Regions from separate parts of the Homo sapiens genome. Here region 2 is linked to region 1. The links come from fine-mapping of genetic effects on gene expression. Tissue or cell type: esophagus mucosa. Region 1 holds a variant in brackets; the other region holds the start of a gene. All regions are shown on one strand. Distances are from middle to middle.

What was found. PIP is the estimated chance that this variant, and not a neighbour inherited with it, causes the effect.
Region 2: it holds the start of EFNB2, and the variant in region 1 is fine-mapped to the expression of EFNB2 in esophagus mucosa (GTEx, PIP above 0.99).

Annotation. Positions count from the first base shown.
Region 1 is chr13:106,096,056-106,104,321 of GRCh38, forward strand. No RefSeq gene overlaps it. Among named protein-coding and RNA genes, the nearest start is that of LINC00460, 280 kb to the right of the region's middle. RefSeq lists an enhancer at 4,239-5,106. The variant C/T (reference allele first, on the strand shown) is at 4,328.
Region 2 is chr13:106,530,815-106,538,814 of GRCh38, forward strand. It overlaps EFNB2 (ephrin B2), which reads right to left and starts at 4,848. Exons shown (of 5, transcript NM_004093.4): 1 at 4,029-4,848. The coding sequence starts at 4,150. RefSeq lists silencers at 2,287-2,346, 2,407-2,506, 4,636-5,295 and an enhancer at 5,876-5,945.

The DNA of each region.
Region 1 (8,266 bases):
ACTCAGTTTCAGTGACTTCCGACCACATATGGAGTAAAGTACAAATGCCCAGCCCAGTACTCAAATATTTATCTGGCTTCTACCTATCCTTCCGCGATTGTTCTCCATTAGACTCCACTCCCTGGAAAGAAACACTTAGGTCCTCTGTAATCCTCCACTGCCTGTCCCAAAGACTGTGCTCTTCTCCTTCCACTTATAACAAATCTCTTTTGTCTGCAGTGCCTCTCCCTTTTTCATTCTTTCTCAGTTTGTCTATTGAAGAATAAGCTTAAACCCCAGCTTTTCCAGAAACCCTTCCAAATCTCGCGGTTGTAATCAATCTTCCCTTCTTTTCTCCCGAATGCTCCCATGACCATTTGAAGTGAATCTCTACCAATCTTTTTAAAAATGATATGTGTGTGTGAGAGGGCACACATGCTTATGTGTGTATATGTGTGAATATGTATATGTATATGTATACATCACACACATACACACACACATATATATATATACTTAGACTCCTTGAGAGCAGAGATCTGTGTCTTAACTTTGTTTTTTATCACGTACAGCACCACCAAAGGGTTTTTCTCAAGATGCCGTACTTAAGAGTTTGGTGGAGAATCTTGTTAAATGTCTGTGTCTACTGTGCCAATCCAGATTCACTTGTCCTTCTGAGACCTCAAGCGATTTGGAGCAATAAAACCTGTACTCTCTGTACTTTTCTTTGCAGGCTTAGTCACTTTTATGGTACCTATTTCCTGGTGACACATATTTACTTTGTGGTCAGATGTTTTACGATAAATTAGGTGCAAATTGGGACTCAGCTATCCAGGTTCCTGAAACATCTCAGGACACTTTCAGACAGTGCCCCTTGAAAATCTCATAAAGCTTACCCCTCACCACAGTCAAAGGCACATAAGTAAATCCACATAGGTTTACATGCAACTGCAGAAGGTTTGTAAACACTCTCTCCTCCCTGAAAATCTATTGATGGTGGCGGGGGACAGGAGTGTGGTCATTGGATCCTAGGTTAAAAGTCGTGGAACTGGGAGGATTTTTACAGTTACTAGAAATGTAAATGCAAACAAAATTTCTAACGTCACTTAACACTGGTAGAATGACTACAAAAATTTAAGAAGTTAGAGCCACTTAGAAAGTTCCTAAAATATCAGGGAGAGCATGTCTCACTCTTACATCAGAATTCTAGAAAATTCAGGAAGCAAATTTATTTTAAATACTTTTTGTTACAAGGCATATAACATGTTTGAACTAGTATGCTATTTCAGCTTTTAACACATTTTCTCAATTATCTGCTAGTATGTTAACTAAATAATTTCCAAATGCAGATTAAAAAGTATACTAGATCTGAAAAATTAGAATTAGAATCGTCCTTGAAGCATTTTACCTTTTTCAGAGCTAGCCTTTTGAATCAGAGGGATACACTTAAAAGAAGTTATAGCAACAGCAATAAAAACCGTTTGAAGATAATGTACTGTGATATAATTTAGTTATCACCAGCAAATTGTAAAGTAAAATTCTACTTAGAAATTAGATTATATTTCAGCAAAAACATAAGAATTCTGTCAGTCTCTTTTTTGGTTGTTTGTTTATAAATTTGTTCCTCAGTTTTTGTTTGTTGTAGGACCTCGAGAAAAATATGTTTTCAATTTCCTTATTCATTTATTTTTTTCATTTAATCATCCTTTCGACAATGCTTATGGTGAGCACACTCCGTTGACACAGCACAGTCGGCCCTCAGTATCTGTGGGTTCCACATCTGTGGCTTCAATCAACTTCAGATCTAAAATATTTGGGGAAAAAATGTGTCTGCACTGAACATGTACAGTTTTTTTTTTCTTGTCATTTTCCCCTAAGAAATAGAGTATAATATGCATTTACATTGTAGTTGGCATTATAAGTAACCTAGAGGCAATTTAAAGTAGATGGGTGGATGTACATAGGTTATATGCAAATACTCTGAGACCTTATATCAGGAACTTGGGCATTCTTGAATTTCGGTATCTGAGAGAAGTTGAACCAATACTTCATGAATACCGAGAGATGAATGTTCTTGCTCCTAGAAGGGCAAGATTGAGGAAGGTGAGTTGACTCTTGTTTTCACAAAGTTTATTCTCTAGAAGGTAACAGACTAATAAGCAATTATTTCAAAGTAGAGAAATGGCTCTGAGATCATAAAAGGCAGGCTTCCGGGTAGATGGAGGTATTAGGGAGGTCCTTGTACAGGAAGCGGTTTCTAGGGAGACCTGGGGGAAGAGTACTGCCGGGTGGCAGATAGGAATGAGCAGGCCCCCTGAAAGGTCAGCCATGGGAGAAGGCTTAGAGATGAGAGGAAAAGGACGTTTAGAGCAGGAAATGTAAAAAGAGGAATGGGAAGAGATGAGATGAGAAAGTGGGCAAGAATCTGATCAAAGAGCATCATGTGGTTCATGTTAACAATTAGGCATTTTCCTAGGGACAGTGGGGAGCCTCTGAAGTATTTTATGAGTCTGTTTGGCATTTTAGAAAAATTACCCTGACTCAATGTAAAAAGGGGATTGGATAAAACAGGCAAATGTGTTAGCTCACTGCTGGGTTGAACTACTCTGTTGGGGTATAGCCCTGAACTTACAGTTAGGGACATAGTTAGCTCTCCTAATTATGGTGTACTTTAGTTCTAGTGGTTCTCAAACCTGATCAGTAGAGCCAACCAGTGAGCTTTTAAAAAGGCACATTCCTGCCATCCCCCTGCCTCACCTAATTCAGAGAATCTGGAGAAATGACCACACACCGTGCTATGTCCTTGCACCATTCATAGGTGACTTACGTACTGGTGAGTATATCTTTGAGGGGACCACCAGCTCATCATTGTCCACTCTGGACCATTCCAACTTTGGAATCCAGGAGGCTGTCTCACAATGGGAGATGCCACATAGCAGCCTACAAACACATTCCTCTCACAGCCATGCCCAGCAGGAGCCCTAAGTTATCCATATTGCCTCTTACAACATCCGTAATAGGCTTATTCCAAATGTGTCTTCTGCAATAAAGTTGTTCTTGATCATTCTAATCAGACATGATTTCTCATTCCTTTGCATTCCCATAGGACTTTGCACTGTATGATAACCTTTATCATTTTGCACATTATAATCTCATTTCTTAAATCCTGAGACTTGGTTGGTTTTTGGTTTTGCCTAGGGTAATAACTTGTCAATACCTATTTAATTGACCCGCTTACAGATATAATAGGGGGAGGATGGCTTCAAAGAGAAAACATACAAACTCATTTTTTAAAAGCCTGTATCTTTGAACACAAAGATGAAAAGTAAAATAAACATTAGCTCAAGAGGAGACCAGAGGTTGTAGAATATTGTATTGTCATGCCTGGAGAAAAATAAACACTCGATTTCCAGATTTTTTCACTGGGATTCTAAAGCATCAGAATAAAGCAAATCGACTTTAGGGGAAAATAGAGGTAGAAAGATAATGGGGTTCTTGCAAGTAATCCCCTGGAGGGTACAGGCAAAAAAGAAAGGTCCTTTAAGGAAACAGAACTTCGTAACAGTTATGGGTGTAATATTTACCATATGTCCCATATGTTTTCAAATTACAAAAGTGCAACTCTTTCCCACAGCGCATTTGCAAGTGGACCTGACAACCCCAGGCCACAGAAATCAAAGACGGTAATCTACCATAAATTCTGCCACGCTAGATGGAACGAATATCTGTCAGATTTTTTAACTTAAACTTCTCTTCCTTTAAGAAGGCAGCATCTGGCTCTAAACTGCACATTTAATTTAAAAATCCTTTAATAACAGCATTAATTCTCATCGTTTTGCATTCTAGCAGTCTGTGACAAGCAAGCATGCGCTGCGTGCGTCAGGCAACCAGACTGCAAAGAGGAGAGGAGGCTGGGGAAGCCGAGGCGAGAGTTCAGGGAGGAGGCCGGGGAAGCCGAGGCGAGAGTTCAGGGGGCACTGTTTGCCTGGAGCCCTGCTCCGAGATCAAATCAGGGGCCGAGGACGTGTGATAACGAAGGAATAAAAGTTAGAATTCTTTTTGTCTAAGCAGAAGATATCTTTCAAATAGGACAATGCACTTGAAGCTTATAAAAAGCAAACTGGGCCCTTAAGAAGGAGAACTCAGCAGTGGTGACAAAGGCCAAGAATCCTGATCTTTGGACACGAAGTTAGACTTGGCTTCAATTGCAATTTCTAATGATCTTATTTTTGTGCTCTCCCTTAACCCTGGCTCAGTGCTTATCTTTTTAAATGACTTGTTCCCTTTCGTTGAAAAAGCAAAACTGGGAACCTCTCACAAAGTAAAGGCCACACACCCTCTGTCCCCA[C/T]CCTAGGGCAGGGCGTGCAAGGAGGGAGGTGCCCTACTAAGAACTGAGAATTTACTAAGAGTAAATTCCTCCCTAACGCTTAGCAGCCTGACTTAGGAAAGAGGGCAGGGTGGCTGTGATCCAGAAGCTGAGGGTGTCCCCAGAGATATAAGGAAGGGGATGTGCTGCAGTGACACACCTGGCTTAGGGGGAGAAGGCAGGAAGGGCAGAAACTAGCTGGGTTGGGGGGTGGGGAGGCAGGAAGGGAAACCGAGTTTGGAAGAAAGGGCCCCTTCTAGTGAGACTGAGTAAGCACAGAAAAAAAAAAAAGCCCCTGCTTTGTGTGGCCTCCCTAGAGCCTGGGGAATTTGCAGGAGATAAAAGGCCAGACATTTCCCCCTGAAGACTGCAGGGTAGCACCTTTGTTTGTGAATGGCACACACCCTGGGGTGGGGATTCCTTTGCGGTTGCCATGACGGCCTGTCACACAAAGTTACATGTCCTGCTCTCTCCTCCCTGCCGCCCCAGCTGTCTTAAAATGGCCTGGATTTTAACTTCTGCATTCAGAATGGAGGAACTTTGCTTCTTAGGGTTTCTAACGCAAATGACCTAATTTTAAAGTCCATTTCCCTCCGCCGGCCGAGCAAATCTACATGAAGGGTACCCTGAGAATATTTTATTTTTGTATTCAGTGCCTTTTCAAATTTTCTGTTTTATGTAAAGCTGTGTTTGGGGCATTAACAATGCATAACGATAACCACTTAACAAACACTGCGAAGGGAATCTGAAGTAGGTGGCCTCTAGGGTGGGGGAAGAAAGAATAGAAAGATAATTCTCTGAGACCGAAGAAATATTTCCCTAACTATGATTTCACAGTAAAAGTTTCCTAATAAAAAAATGTTGTAAAGGAGGGTCTTTTAAAAAGTGGTCTGTGGTCTGACCCCTCTTCAAATTTACTTTTATGACTAATGTTGGGTGACCAAGCAATTATTATACTACTGAAAAATCTCATTAACTGCCTGAAAAATCAGCCAGTAAAGTGGGCCATGTCTGGTTTCTGCTCAACCTCATAAAACCTTTGAAGTCCCATAAGCGACCACATAATGACAGTAGAACTGGGGATGCCTCGACAACCTTCTTTCCTTCAGTCCCTCAGCTCGGCTCTAGAAGGCAGGCCCTGAACACCAGGGATTTTTGCCCACTCTATTCACAGTGTCCCTGGCACGTAAGAGGTGCTCAGGAAATATTTGTTAAGTAAGAGAAATTTAATTATTGTGATATCTGAGGGATTAAAGCCAAAAGTTAACCATAATAATATCCTAGATGATTTGAGGAAAATAAAACATTTATGCTGGGAACTTTTTTTAGATAAGATGTTAACTTGTATTTTCTTTCCCTGCATATTAGATCCCTTTTCTTCTCTCTGTTGAAGCCAGTAGCATGGGCTGAGCCTGTTTCCTCAAGGGCTCCATAAAGTCATATCCCAGCAAAAAGCCTAGTATGGTGTTTCTAAAATTACCTAACCTTTGTTGCAGACAAAATATCCTTGCAATAATCACGAAGAGAGAAAGATTTTCTCAAGCCAAGAAAGAGATGGTCAAGGCTGGTTGGAGGCACGCTGGTAAGAATGGAGTTCTGTGGATCTTGGAGCAATGAATATTTGTCAGAAGCAGATCTTTGGGGCTGGCAAGAGCTCAGATTGGGGATGGTTACAGTTGGAGGAACCATGAGCAGCCTAGAGAAGACCCTTATGCACCAAGTGTGGTAGGGGAGCCCCAGAGTCAGGAGCGCCTGTCCTGTGGGCACAGTGAGCTTGAGACAGCTGTCTTGGAAGAAACATTTGAACAGGGCTTCACACTTCCAAGGTCTTGACCTTCCTCAGACCCCCTGAACACAGGTCTCAGAGGAGGGAAGGGGAAAGTCAAGATACACTGAGGTCAAATGGTCCTGCAAGGGTATTAGTCTGTTCTTATACTGCTGTAAAGAATTTATCGAGACTGGGTAATTTATAAAGGAAAGAGGTTTAATTGATTCGCAGTTCAGCATGGCTGGGGAGGCCTCAGGAAACTTACAATCATGGCAGAAGGGGAAGCAAACACGTTCTTCTTCACACGGTGGCAGGAATGACAAGTGCCACGCAAAAAAGGGAAACCGTCTTATAAAACCATCAGATCTCACGAGAACACGCTCACTATCACAAGAAAAGCATGAGGTGACTGCCCCCACAATCTCATCGCCTCTCACAAGGTTCCTCCCCCAACACATGGGGATTACAATTTGGATTACAATTCAAGATGAGATTTGGGTGAGGACACAGAACCAGACCATATCAGCCAGCTATGCAGGAAGGGGTCCCAAAATACCATTTAAATTAGCTCATAGAAAATATATTGCTCTTTCTTCTGGTACAACGTGAGTTTTTGAATGGAGATTTGCACGGAGTATACATTATTTTAAAGCAATGCATTTTAGAGCAAACACAGATATACTTCGTATTCATATGAATTTATAAAAGCAAATTCATACTTCAAAGAAACATCATGCTCCCTTGGGCTGTGACTTCTGTCTCACTCAACTATCGGTTCGATGAAGCAGAAACTGTGTTTTGCCTGTAATGTCTTCCCAGGGCCTGACACATCACCTCACTCAGAGGAGGTACCAAATATTTGTTGAAATAATAAATGAATGCATGACCTCCTCTGCATGCATTCAATAGAAAATTTTCAGATATTCTCAAGATGATGCAAAATATATGTACACACCAGGCACTATACCACTGTCTATTTTTAAAAACATGGTTTTCTTAGGCAGATGTGTATCATTAGCAGGTGTAACTACGAATGATCCTATGGGTCTGATGATATGAGCAGATTAAACACCCTCTCACATTCGTTTGCATTCTCTCTTGGAGCCAGACTCTGAATAAAACAAATATTAGCTCTCTGCCTTTTATATGTTGTTTTCTTCTTTAGGTTCTTTCCAGCCATTCTGTGTCCAAATGGCTTTACAGTAGTGTATCTTCAAGATGCCTATTCTTTATACTTTTACTTTCCAACCATTCCCAATCTGAGAAACTTTTTCTCATCCAGTGCATGTCAGTACCCGGTGAGATAGATATATTTGGTACGTATCAGTAGAGGCATATTCTGTTGCTTTCTTCTCAGCACAAATCATAATTAACACCTGTCAGACTGGAGACAGTGATATGTGTACTTTGAGCATGGCTGAAGGAAAGGGAAGACGTGGGTATAGTCAGGGATAGCATCAAAACTTTGTACTCCCTGCAAGGGCAGGGGCATCCCCAATCAGAGCAGCGACCACAGCAAAAAGCACAGCCTCCCCTTAAACTACCAGCACAGCCTCACTGGTGTGCACCACCTGAGCATCCCGCCAGGTACCCGTCATCAACCCAACTCATCACCTCCAACGGAACAACCAAGAGGTGCGGTGTTATCACGGGTACGGATCTGCTTCCCACCTTTCACCAGAATACCTCCATGGCCTCTCCCTCAGCCCATGTGTTGACTTTGCCTGTCTTCAGCTTTGCTGCTATTTTAAACTTGGCTTTCCTGGTCAGCCTGGTGCAATCAGACCACAGGCACGAACCCTTTTACGACGTACCTTCCGCCCAGCCCTTCCCCTTCATTCTCCTGCCTCCACCCCAATCCACGTCCTATCTCCTTGCACAAGAATGACTGTAACAGCTTCCATACCCTTGGTCTCTCTGCCCCTGGTGAGTCCATTCTTCACACCTCTTGGCGTTAGTCTAATTAAAACCCTGTCTGTTCTGTCCCTCTACTATTCAAAAGATTGTAGTGGCACTAATTGCTCTAAGGAAAAATTCCAAATTCTTTGGAAACTTTCAAAGCTCCATCTTCCATTCATTCAGGCAACAAGTTTTAATTGAGCAGCCACTGTGTTGCACATACACTTTTAGGTACTGGGGATTCAGAGAGGAAA
Region 2 (8,000 bases), 430 kb after region 1:
AGCAAGGATTTAGTTGCTCCAGTTGCAATGTCCATCTGAAGGCAATTATCTCACTGATCCACCAACCGAAGGATGCACCTCAGTAAGTTTACAGACAAGAGGTTTTAATATAAATCCACCAATTGTTCTTCAGCTGACTCTGTCTGGAGGAACCATTCAAACACATAGTTTTTAGCAAGCTGGTCTCCAGGCCCATGGCGAATTCACCTGTCCACACACTTTAGCTTAAGTCAGAAGCCTCTGGAAATGTTGGAGTCATCTGCATGTCTTTGCGTCGGCAGAACCAGCGTCAACAGCTTATGCTTTGTAAAAGATTTAGAACCAGGTGCTTAGCAAATCATCTTAACCTCCAGCTCCTGTTTCTGGGGCTTGAAGCTGTAACTGTTGAGGTTAAGATGTGCAGTCCCTAGACACATGATTCTCAAATAAATTCTCATCTGAAAAGAAGGCTACCAAGCATGTTGTGAGGTATCGCTTTAGCTTAGTCTTTGTGCTCTGCCTGGCTCAGTTGTCCTGCAGAACAACGACAGTCCATTACCTACAGTTTATCATCCTGACAAAATGTGAGGAATGTGGATGTGAAAGCACTAACAATTCCACCCCTGGTGCTTTGAGCTTTTTTCTCTCTATATTAAAACCGACAAGATTAACCCAAACGCAAACTGTGGAGCATAGTTCAAGGGGCTATTCAATCAGTGCTGAATGTGCATTTGTTTACCTACAAAAATAAGAATTTCAGACACAATGGAAGGCAGGCTGGCTTATATATGTTATTGAATGGACTGTTTAAACAGCACTATCCATTGTAGTTTATTTTATCAATCTCTGACAGGTCTGTATTTATTCAGAGCCTGATTGTGGTGAAGCCCATGTATTATACGTTATCTGGATATCATCCAGCCATTCTTTTGTATCAAGTCAATTAGTATCAGGAATCCAGTATTATATAGGGAAAAAATTACATGGGAAAAGCAAAATGCTATGTTAACTAACTAGTATGTGATGCACAGGGAATGGTAACCCCAGACATAAGGCATTAGTACTCGAAATTTTCAAAGTCAGTGTAATGCATTGCAGAACACCATACCAATACAGATTTGCTCACATTAAAGTAAAATTAATTTTTTTTTAAAAAAGAGCCCACTACTTTACTTAGGCCAAAATCTCCCTCTTGGAAGAAAATGTTCTACTGAAGTGTTAAGTTAAAAACGGAAGCTAGGCATTACTGTTCTCTGCTGAATTAAAAAAAAAACAAAAAAAAAACCAAAACTTTAAACAACCAAAATGGCTACAACGGACCCAACTCTACCAGAACGTATCAAAGCAATGTGAATAACCTAACAGGGCAGCTACTGTTTCAGCACGCAGGACATCTTTCCATTATTACATACAGTCAGGGACGGGAGAGCCGACAATGTGATTAAAGTAGTTACGGAGACGCTGAATTTACAAAGGGTTTTCTGGACCCTGTATCCAAACAGCTGCTGCATGCTCCCTGTGTCGACCACCTGCTAAAAAAGCTGACCTCTGAATGAAACAAATCTAATTACTGATGGCGGCTTCATTACAAATGAATTGTTCCACAGTTCATAGGAACTGATGTGAAACTTCAATGCATTTGATTACCTTCCTGCCACATCATATTTACCGATTCAAACTTTCCTCTGGAAATAAATATAAAACTTCCCCAAGGAAAGCGACCCCCTGTCATCAGGGGGTTGTATGCATTCTCAAAAACTTAGAGAGGACTCTTTCCTATGGCTCCTACAGGAAGAAATCTTTCTGATCTCTGGAGCTAGCATTCAGCTGCAAGGGAGACCTTTTCCAGGCACACATTATCCAGTCATCCAGGCAGGCCGTTATCAGGAGAATTTTAAAAGAAATGCTGCTGTGGAGGACAAGACAGCAGCAGCAACCTCAACCGCGCAAACGGCAGGCTTCCAGAAACGCAGGGCCCTCGCAGGTCTGGACATAGCTGGAAAGACAGACTCATCTTCATCATCAGAATGGGGGGGGGGAGTGGTGAGTACCTGTCACCTCCCCCCAGGACCCCCCATCTCGACACATTACAAAAAGAAGTTATTAACGTCTAAACCTTAGGTTGAAATAACTATTGTTCTACTTTTCTTTTTCTCCCAACTAGGTATTTCTAATTCTCCTACCGGATACACACAAACTAATAGTTAATATAGCGCAAAGATAAAGATACACACACCGAACTAAACGCTGAAGAGGCTAACGGAATTGCTTTCAACTAGATTTAAACAGAAATATTAAATCCTCATAAGAAAAAAAAAAACAGCCTCAAAGAGAACCGGTCAGTGAAAGTGCAGAGTGGCTGGAGCAGGCGGCCTGGGGGAGGGGCGAGGCCTGGCGCTGCGCGATTCCGCATGGAAGAGTGACCTCTGGAGGCACCGGGCGGGCAGCGGCGCCGCGGGCTCCCCGCGACCGCCTCGCCCGCCCGCCCGCCTCTCCCGGACTCCGGGACCCGCTGCTGCGCGAGGTCCTAGCCCGGCTCCTTCCGGCACCACCTGGCGCCTCCCGAGCCGGCATCGATGCAAAGATGCCGCCGCCAGTACTTCATCAGCAAATACAACAATTTACATTAAAAATATAATCCATGCAAGAGCAGACTACATGGAAGGAGGCAGAGCTAAGTAACTTCTCCGTATGAGCGGTGTTGAAAGTGCCTTCTAGCATCATACAAACATTTGTTTAAACCGATTTGTAACCGACGTTTTCGCCCTTTTCATGAAGGGATTCTTGGTTAACATGTTAGTGAATTTGAAATTTGACACTTTTAAGAGAATGGACACACTCCTTTAAGACGTGATTTCTAAATCAATCCCCCATTTCTTTTCTCCTAAAACCAGGCCCAACTTGCTCAACTTCAATTAGGCCATTGATTTTGCTTCTGATCTCAAACGTTTTCTCCAGAAACCAGCTAATGTCTGCATACTTCTTCTCCAAGTTTCCCGAGACTACAATTCCAAGATTCTGTAAAATATGTTTTGGCTGTGATTCGAAATAAGGGGATACACAGTACTGAATACCCAGATGACTACGAGTTATGACCACACAGATTTAGGGATGGATGGGATTTTCTAAATTCTGAATGCACTCTGGTGGCCCAAACTGAAAGTTACTCTCCACAAGGCCTGGCTCGCTCCCGGCTGTAGAGTCCGGTAAGAGCAAATCTGATCCTAAGGATCCCATTCCTACCAGGGTCCCGAGGGAGAAGGCTTCAGGAGCAGTGTCGACTGGGCAGGGCCCTAAGCTTTTATAGGAAGTGCATTACAATCAGGTCGGCCATCGAGACCGCATACTCCGGGGCTACCGGCTTATGAACGAAGCGGGAGGCCGAGGTGCGGCGGGCCCTCAGGGAGAAGCCTAAGGCCCGTCTCCCCGGCGCGGAGGAAAGGGCTCGACGCCCGAGTTCTCCTGCGAAGCAGGCGAGCTCCCCGCGCACCCTCGGGCTGGCGGCGCGGTGCCAAGGCGCCCCGGCTCCAGGGCTCTGCGGGCAGCGTAGCGACTCCAGGCTCCCCTCTCCAGAACGCGCTTCGCTGCCAGCGTCCTGCCACCCCGGTCGCCCGCCCGCGGGCCCCGGACCACGCCGCCCGCGCTCCCCGCGAATGCAGCATCTCCGCCTCTCTCCAGAGCCCACCAGTCCCCGCGTGCCGGCCAGCCTAGATTGTGGCCATGTCCTTCGTCCTCGAAAACAGGAGAGGGTCAGGTATCGCCATCGGACACCTTCCCGGACTTGACACCCGAGCCGATAGTAGCTTTTAGCGCCTGGGAGCGTTCGGGGGAGGAAAGGCGGAGAGACCGTCCGTTCCAGCGGGGCTCGGGTTGGAAAGCCGAGCGAGGAGTCTCCACCTAGTGAAATGGGGCGGGGGTTGGGGGTGGGGGACGGGGAACCGAGGTTCCAGAAACAGGCTCCGAGGCCCCGCGGACTGACCCCTCCTCCCGCCCGGACGGCGCGGCGGACCCCGGGGCGGGGACATAGGGGGATCGCGGACGCCACTTACTTGGAGTTCGAGGAATTCCAATAGATAGGCTCTAAAACTATCGATTTGGAAATCGCAGTTCTGCATAAAACCATCAAAACACCCCAGCAGTACTTCCACACGGAGTCCCTTCTCACAGCCATGGCGAAGCCACTCCCAGCTCCGCGCACTCCGGGCCAAGAAGGGACTGACGGGACGCAGGCTGGGACCCCCAATCCTCCGGGGCAGACTGGCGGGGAAGACGGCGTGCGCCCGCAGGCAGCTCCGAGGCGCGCTGCGCAGCTCCAGCGGTCGCCGGGCCAGGTGCGCTCGCTCTCCGGGGCCCTCAGGGCGCGGGGCGGGAGCGCACGCGCGGGGCGCGGCGGCGCGGCGGACTCGGGGTTCCGGGGCGCCGCGCCGGACGCAGCTCGGACGGCCGACTCCCGTGCGGCTCCAGGGTGCCGGGCCGGCCGCGGCTGGCGGGTGGGCGCGGGGCGGGTGCGGGCTGGGACACAAAGACCCGGAGCGGAGACGACCGGCGCGGGCGGCGGGCGCTGCGCCCCGAGCGGGGCCGCCTGTGACTATAGATCCAGTGCAGCGGGCAGCGGCCCGAGCGCGCGGGCGCCGCGTCGGCGCGGTTCCATGTCCCGGAGCACGGAGCGGAGTAGGGCGCCTCCGGGCGCGCAGGAGCCTTCTCAGTCCGCGCGGCTCCCGGCCCCCAGGGCAGGAAAGAGGGAGCTCGGTCCCCGCCGCGGGCTCCGGACGCGCGCGGGCCTTTGTGTGCGGGGAGGGCGCCGGGACCCGCTGCGTGCGCAGCTCCTCGCTCCGGCCGGCGCCGCGGTCCCCGCCGAGGAGAGTCAGCGCGGCCGCCGCGCTGTCAGAGCGCTATAAACGCGGGGCCCCGCCCCGCCGCGCGAAGCCCATTGGCCCGCGGCTCCGCGGCCGCGCGCTGGTTGGACGGCCGGTCCGTCCGTCCGCCATCCCCTCCCGACATTGGGTGCCGCGAGGCGGGGCTCGGGCTGACAGGTGAGCCCCGCCCCTGGCTCCCGCGGGCGGCGGGAGCGGAGCAGAAGCCGGGCAGGAGAAGCGCTCAGCGCGTGCACAGGGCGCCCCCGGGGCGGCGAGAGGCCTTCTGGGCGCGGTGCAGACGTGGAAACAGCGACGGCCGAGTAGCGGGCCACCTGTCTCCGCGCCCGGGGGCGCCTTCCCCCTCGGCGGAATCAGAGGGCGCGGCTTTCCCTCGAGCAGTGCGGAAGGCAGCAGGCTCCGCTCGGCGTCCCTTCTCCGCAGATGCGGCGCTGCCCCGCGTGCAAGACTTGCACTCCGCGCGCACCCTTAGAGCTCCCGGCTTCTGCGCGCTTCTCCCGACGCCTCTCGGCGAGGGCTTCTCACTTGATTTTGGTACCAATCGCCTACGGCTCAGTTTCAGTCAGTGGGGCCGGGAATTGCAAGACGATTCCTGCGACGCGGCGCCGGAATTTGCAGCTCTAATCAGGGCCTGAGCATCGTCGCCTCCCGCCTTCTCTGCGGGCGTCTCCCTTCCCTCCTGGCCCCCCGGGAAGGTGGCGCCCCTGGAGCTTTCCCCGCGTGTCGCCGGCACAGGCACGACGCGGGGACCGTCTCACTAGCCTCTAGGAGACACGCGCGCTTCCCAAAGTGACCAGAGATTTAGAGGGTGTGAGATGGAAAAGTCAAGGCATGTGCTTCTCACTCGGCGTCTGCAAGACCCCAGAGCAGAGCTGGCAGGAACTCCTCGCTACTTTCCCGGTCGAGCGCCGGTGCTGACGCTCGTCCGTGACTTCCACGGAGCCACAGCGCCCACTAGCGGCCAGCTTTGCTTCTCCGCATCTCGAGCGCTCTGCGGTCCACCGACCCGGATCCAGCATACTGCAGCATCTAATCAAGTCACAGTTCCAAGGAAAATCTTTTTATATGTCCAACAGTAGGAAGAACACGGTAGAAATAAGGCACAGTGCAAATGTACGATTCAGTATGAAAAATTAAAATATACTGTATGCCCACGTTTTTTTTCAATTTAATGCCGTCCACCCCAGGATTTATGTTTCAAACACAAACTGGGCAGTAATTCTACAAATTATGTATTTTTAAAACAAAGTATCCACTACGCTAAATTTAAAAATGCATATGGTAAAACACCTTGTTTTCTTTCACTCTTCTTTGTAACAATTTCTGAAGATTTTTATGGTACGTTGCTTTTAAGTATCCGTTTTTGAAACATTAGTCTAACTTAACGTATACATCTCAGTTGGAGTGGTAAAAGCTTGTGAAGACTAGTTTAAGATAGAAAACACATTAAGGCATACAAAGTACTGAATACACTTACTCTTCCAAACAGATCTTTGAGAGCAGAAAAGTTTCATAATTTATTTTCATTTTAAATAAGCCTTCAAACTAAATATATATATACACACATATACGTATACACACATATACACATATTTATACATATATACACATATGTACGTATATATATACACACACATATATACGTATATATATACACATATATATATGCACACACACACATATATATATAAAATTTATTTTAAAAAGGCTCCACCACGGTATGACGATTTGAACAGCGGATTCCCAGGAAGCACCAACAACCCAGGAAGCAGCAGGCACTATGACTCCTACCTTGACAAGGGTGAGAAAGGGCTAGTTTTTAGTATGCTAAAATACCATTTAAGGAACTCATTGAAATTGAATATAAAGTTAGCTTAATGATCTTTTAAAAGAACACTGGGTACTCAGTACCTTTTGACAAACTTATATTGTGAAATTTAAATTGTGACCTCTTAGCTCACTACATCCTCCTCTCCAAGTAAACTAGAGGAAATACAGGAAATTTGCATTGTCTGAAAATAAGCCAGCTTCCAAAAATAACATTTTCAGTAAATCAGAAAGTCTCACATCCAAAGCGTTTTACCTTGGGACAAATGTAAATATACACTTTAAAATCGCTTCCTTTTCAAAACAAAGTGCGTATTTGACTGAAAAGGAATCCTACACACACACAAAACATCTATAGTGTGAGAGAATATACAGCTTAGTTTCAGTCAACAGAGATTCAATGTAGACAATGTGAAAAGCATCAGCAGTACTCACTTCGAAGATGTCAACATTCTACTATTTAATGGTAATTTTGGTAATTAAAAGCATCACCTCAAAGCCATTTGTATCTACTATTGTATAACATGCCAGCAAAAAAGTAGGTCATACTGGCATGCACAAGGCAAAGTAGAATTTCCAAAGCATGCCAAACCAAGAACCAATCACATCAGTGTCGTATCTCTTGGTATTTGGACTTCATTTTACAATTATTGGGAAAACTTGGTTAATTTTTTTCTTTACCACACTTTGAATCATGATCAATGTATTTCGAGAAATCTATACTTTTAGCAGATGTATTTAAACCCTCATCAAATGAGATTTTATTTCAGCAGAGGAAGTTACTTCACTGTGTTCTAGACTTAAGTTTTGAAGGCCGGGCGCAGTGGCTCACGCCTGTAATCCCATCACTTTGGGAGGCCGAGGTGGGCGGGTCACGAGGTAAGGAGATTGAGACCATCCTCACTAACACGGTGAAACCCAGTCTCTACTAAAAATATAAAAAATTATCCGGGCGTGTGTCGGGCGCCTGTAGTCCCAGCTACTCGGGAGGCTGAGACAGGAGAATGGCGTGAACCCAGGTGGCGGAGCTTGCAGTGAAGCCGAGTTCACGCCACTGCACTCCAGCCTGGGCGGCAGAGTGAGACTCAGTCTCAAAAAAAAAAAAAAAAAAAAAAGTTCTGATAAGTCAAATAAATAAGGATTTGGGAATTTCAAAGGATACCATAGTTATAAAAGTTAACACAAAGCTGAATAAATGTAAAATGAGATGACAAATAGATAATCGCAGCTTTAAAAAAGTGCAATTCCCCACCTCCAACAAAAAAAATGCAAGTAATTATGTTCCTACCCCTTTGAATTCCTAGGCATGTTTTGGGCTTT